Regions from separate parts of the Homo sapiens genome. Here region 2 is linked to region 1. Evidence: fine-mapped expression QTL. A gene starts in region 1. The other region holds a variant in brackets. All regions are shown on one strand. Distances are between the middles of the regions.

Evidence for each region. PIP is the estimated chance that this variant, and not a neighbour inherited with it, causes the effect.
Region 2: its variant is fine-mapped to the expression of RWDD1 in whole blood (INTERVAL, PIP 0.94).

What each region holds. Positions count from the first base shown.
Region 1 is chr6:116,569,905-116,572,932 of GRCh38, forward strand. It overlaps RWDD1 (RWD domain containing 1), which reads left to right and starts at 1,600. Exons shown (of 7, transcript NM_015952.4): 1 at 1,600-1,751. The coding sequence starts at 1,679. RefSeq lists enhancers at 995-1,174, 1,205-1,534, 1,755-1,854 and a silencer at 1,575-1,654.
Region 2 is chr6:116,518,455-116,520,954 of GRCh38, forward strand. The region is part of intron 3 of TRAPPC3L (trafficking protein particle complex subunit 3L); the gene reads right to left. It overlaps CALHM5 (calcium homeostasis modulator family member 5), which reads left to right. Exons shown (of 2, transcript NM_153711.5): 2 at 1-2,500. Among named protein-coding and RNA genes, the nearest start is that of CALHM5, 8.1 kb to the left of the region's middle. The variant T/C (reference allele first, on the strand shown) is at 1,093.

The DNA of each region.
Region 1 (3,028 bases):
TTCTGTCTTCCTCACTTATTTTGGTCAACAGAACTTCGTCTTTCCAGTTCTTCCAGCCAAAAATCATCCTTGACTCCCCACTTAGGACTTAATGCACTAGCTGTTTCCTCTGGCAGCTCTTTCCTCATAATAAATCAGTATAATTCCTCTGAACTGAGGCGATCCAAAAAAAATGAGCAACTTATACTTGCAAAGTTACTTTATGTATTTTATTTGATTGTCATCATAGTTAGGAGACTCCACTTTTTCATTAAAGTTTAAAAGAACGCCTGAAATCAACCCTTAATACCGTAAACACGGAATCAGTATCAAAGTGTTCCTCTGCTATAGGTAAGCAGCACTCCTCAATAAAAGATCAAGGTGCCTTCTGGTGCTTCAGGGGCTTCATCATTAGGAATCTTTCATTTAAAAAGTGTTCCTCCCACTATACCAGTGAAACCAGCTTTAATACAGAGAAATCAAAACAAAGAAAAATACAGAAAAGTGGGCAACAGCTTTTGAGTATTTTCTTAAAATTTTCCATTTTTCGACTTAGCGCAATAATATAATAAAGGAACATGGGATCCTTTATTATTGTTACCATAGTTTTTAATATCATTTTCATAAAGCTAACCATGTTTATTTAGCCATTTTCTTAGCTTTTGCCATCATGGTTCTTTGAAAATTTTCTTTGTAATTGCTGCAATGATTTTGGAGATCACAGATGCATGCTACTTGCTCAAGTTTATTCTTGGAAGTCGTATTACCAAATTAAAGGTTCTCAACATTTCTCGGGGTACTGCAATTTTTACATTGCATATGATAATTGTTATTACTGAGATCTACATTCCTTTCATCAATTCACAAATACACAATCACAGACATCTTGAGATCTATCATACGTCCAGCTGCGTTCATTTCACAAAATCAGAAGTTAAGCCTAAAGATCTGAACCGAGAAGCCGGACCTCCGGTCTATTTCTCCCTCCTGGATCCACCCCGACTTATTAAGCAGTTAGACCGACCCTTCCATACTCATTCAAGGCAGTGCAGAGCTTTTGCTCCCCTGCCCAGTGGAATCTACACTGGTCCCAGCCTCTCGTCCAACTCCCGTAGGACGCCAAGCAATACGGAGTTCGAGAAGCTCAGAAATCTCCTGAGCCCCACCAGTCCACACTAGGTTGCAAGCCCGCAGCACCTACGCCACGGCGTCAAACCGGAAACCAGAAAAGGTGAAGGCATCGGACGCCCCTCGCCCCAGCCCGGCCACCAGCGACACTATCCTTCACTGACGCGCGATGCCGGCCTTTCAGCCCAGACTCATCGAGCGAGGATGCAGCGCTGAGAGGCTTCTAAGGCTCAGGCCCTGCAAAGCCCAGGAGCCGGCTGTAGGTGTCCTTGGCGAATGCCAGACCGCGCGCACCGTCCCAGCAAGTCCCGAGCGAGTGTGGGACAGGCAGCAAATCAGTGCCCCCTGGCCAGGCAGAACGAGTCGAACGTGGAAGTAGGGAGCAGGCGGAGGCCGGCGCGGAGCTGCAGTTAAGCAAGCCGGGTCTGGCTTTGGGCCCTGGGCCTTCCAGCCGGGGACTCTGCGCCTGCGCCCGCCTGGCCGCCGCCCGCTCTCCCGGCGCGGCAGCTGTCTGGGCTGCTGCGCGCCGCCTAGGTGTCTGGGCGATCTATGGGCAAGAGCAAGGGCCACGATGACAGATTACGGCGAGGAGCAGCGCAACGAGCTGGAGGCCCTGGAGTCCATCTACCCTGACTCCTTCACAGGTGACTCCCGCGGCCGCAAGCCTGTAGCCGCCCCGAGGTGGAGTAGGACGGGCAGGAGCTGCCGCAGCTCTGGGCCTCATAGGTTGGGGTGGAGAAGGGGACCTTGAGGCCGCGCGGCCACCTTGCCCTCCACTCCTCAAGTTCTTCAGTCACTTACCAGCAACCCAGTGACTTTTTCTCCTTCTCTGCTTGTTCCCGGAAATCTAAAAGTCCGGGTGATGTTGGAGGGTGTCAGGCCTGAAAATTGAGTCGGGATTACTTTGGTTTCTGTGTAACCTACAGCAACCTGAGATTTATAATACATTAAGAGAAAAAATACTCCAAGTGCGATTCGTTTTTCCACAGCCGCAAGAATGTTAGTTTTCACATTTTTAGCTTTATTAAGGTAGAAACTGTTTTTCATACGATGCTGTTTTAGTTTATAGGATTCAGAGTGCTGTTTTCAGTTACTCAAATCGGTTTTGAGAGTAGCATAGTCCCTGAAGTCTGTCGGGTTTCTTTTCTTATGAAAAAAAAAAAAATCTGGCATTCAGCAGAATGCCTAATGGATAATGTGGCCCAAATTTCCGTTCTGCTATAAATTCATAGGTTGTTAGATTGGAAGGGAGATTAAACATCATCTATCCTGGGGCTCCTGCTCCAAGCCAAGGTCATGGGGGTTCAGGAAAGCTAAGTGGCTTGCTCTGTACTGTCCGCCAGCGAGTTAGCGGCAGGGCTGGTACTGAGTTATACGTCCAGAACGCTTGCCTGTTCTTTCACTTTCCAGACATATGGGACTTGGGATTCAGCTCCAGCTGAGATTGAGAGAGCAGAAGATTACTTGGTAGGTTGGGCTAATGTAAAATATTATAATGAGAAGTTCATTAGGTATAATTTAGAGGACGAGATTTCTCTATTAAGCCATGCTTCGGATGATTATAAAAATGCTACATAACTATATCAATATGGCTCCTCTGAGATTTGAGAAGCGGTCAAATAAAGCCAATATGAGTGAGTAGAACCTAGGTGTGTGCATTTACATTCCCCATCCTTTCCTTTGAGTGTTGCCTATCGTTGATAGTCAGAATTTATAGTGTAAGGTATATTACTTTAACTTATAAATTCCAACCCCTCTCCCTTTCATTGTTTAGCTTAGTTTTCTTGGCTTCACCTTTTGACCACTGCTTGCAATGGTAGCAAATTTTGTTCTGCTTTGCCAACAGGCAGATGTCTCTCAGCTATCCCTGTATAGCTCCAGTCCTGTTCATGTTCTCTCTCACCAGCAGTACATCTGTGCT
Region 2 (2,500 bases), 52 kb before region 1:
GTCAGACGTCTGTGTGTGTATGTGGCAGGGACAGAACAGGGATTAGGGATGTGAGGGGGTAGAGTTTTCAGAATAAAGGGAGAGAAAATTCAGCAAAGAGTTCTCCTTCTTAATCTTTCTTGACTTAAAGTTTGTCTGCCCTTAAGTGTCTTCTGAGCTGGAAAAAGACATATAGGAACTGGCCGATGCCGATGCCTCTTTTGCAGTGTGTGAGAGGCTGAAACAGAAGTTCTACAGAAGTAGGTTAGCTGTAAGGAGCTGAGGATTGAGGAGTCATATCTGGGGGATATTCCTGCCACCCTCAAGTCCAGGGACTTTCTGCACTCAAAAAACTTACGCTCATGACAATGACTGCCTCATTCAAGAAAACCCAAGCTGACTGGCAAGAAGCCAGCAGCCTGGGTACTTGTTGCTGCAGCTTAGTAAGTAGCAGAAGAGCTCATCCTCCTCCTCTGGAAGAAGCCACTTAACAGGTTCTCATCCTGACTCCTAAATTCCTTAACAGTCCTTTACTCAGGAATAAAACAAGTCCAAGAAAACTTATCTGTCCCACAAATAGTCCTGGAGGCAGTGGAGTAAGATAGGGAGAGCAAATTGGTGTCTGCTCTTGAGTATCTTGAGGGAATGGGTATCTAGAGGCAGCAGGATGAACTGGCTTTGATAGCAGAGACTTTAAAATGTGTGGACCATTAGTTGTCTTTGGATGTGCTCCCTAGAGGCTGCGCCTGACACAGGGAGCTGTGTATACATGATTTATTAAAAGGAAATCCTCTTAGGAGAAACATATTAGCAGGATAAACACAAGAAAGAATGCAGTTACAAGTGGAGTCTCAATCAATCCCAGAGGAAATTCTGGGACTTCAGCCTCAGCTTGACCTATGGGGGGGCTCTGGAATGTCAGATTTCTCCTGATCCCAAGTGTGCTCTGGGGCTTCCATTGCAGCCAAGAGAGAGCATTCCCCAGAAAACTCCAGGTGAGGAGTCTCCAGTGGCCCAAGGGTGATCCTCCAGAGGAGGTTACACTGCCGAACTGGGACATTGGCACCCTGGATTTGAATATCTAGAGAGGGCACCCAATGGTCATACTAATGT[T/C]TGCCATAACAGTCTCTTCTAGGTCTAGACTTGAAGCATATGGAAGGGTCCTTGGGCTAGAGCCAACCCAAGCCCAGGCTGACTCCCTTTTAATACTTCTAATTTTCCCTGAAGATCTGGTCTTCTCCCTACCACCACTACCCTATTACATAAGAGAAAAGGATTGGAGAATGCTCTTGAAAAGAATGTGATGCTTTCCCATACAAGGAATATACTCAAGGAAAAATTTCATGGCACAAAATGCTGATTCTGTCCAATTTATCCCATGAATAAATTGTGTACACATATATATATGATTCTTTTGTTTTTCCTGTGCAGTTCCTTCCTTTTTTCAGGCTCAACCACTTAATTCAGCTTTAGGATACATTCAGCTTATTCATATCAAATATAAAGTGGGAGAAAAAAAGGTATGTAACAAAGATTACAAAAATAAGGCATGGCAGACAAATCACTACATAATTCTATGCATTATACCTTAAAGTAATGTATTGTAAAATATATGTGTCCAAAGCAACTTTTAAAATTTTTGTATGGTTTTCTACTTGAGACCTTTAAAGCATCACTAAAAATGTATACATTTAATGAGAAAACGATGACATTATTGATTCAAATTAGTTGTTTCAAAGCCTGATGATCCACTGATTTACTCTAAAAACTGGTTAAAGCAATCCAGAAGTCACTGGGTAGCAGAAAACTGCTACCGCTTCTCACATGATATATTTCAAGTACTTCAACTATTAACTATATTATTCTATTTAGACTTTGGTGGTTCCGAATTCTCTAAGGTAATTATCTTAATTTTCTAATATTTCCCTCTCATTTTTCTCTCTTATTTTAAATATCCCCTGTTGTACAAGCCAGAGGATATTAATTTCCTTTGTGGGTAGTGCTTGGACTTCTCTGATTTTAGATCCCAAAATCATTAAGAAAAAGCTAAGAGGTTGGCATGAGAGGTTGGATGGAAAGCATCTATCTGTGTTTGTCAGTAGCTCTCGATGTTGGCTGCAAATTGGAATCACCTGGGGGCCTTTGACAATCACAATGTCTGGACCCATTTCCTGAGAACCTGATGTAACTTTTCTGGGTTAGGGCCTGAACATTGAGATTTCTTTTAAAAGCTTTCTAAGTGATTATAATGTGCAGTCATGGTGAAGAACTACTGATTTTATATGGGGAGTCAGTGAAGGTGGTGAGGGGCTGTGAGGTTGAAATATTGGAAATGTTATCTGGATTTCAAACAGTAGAGTATGATAAAAATTTAAAAACTGGCTCTCCAGGAAAAAAGAGACATCCTAATATGATGTATTTGCCAATATACCATGGGTTTTCTTGGGCTGGGATGAACTTTCAGAAGTTTTACAGTGAGCATTTTTTTTTTTATGAATTTAAATTGGTTCTAGCTAAGCAA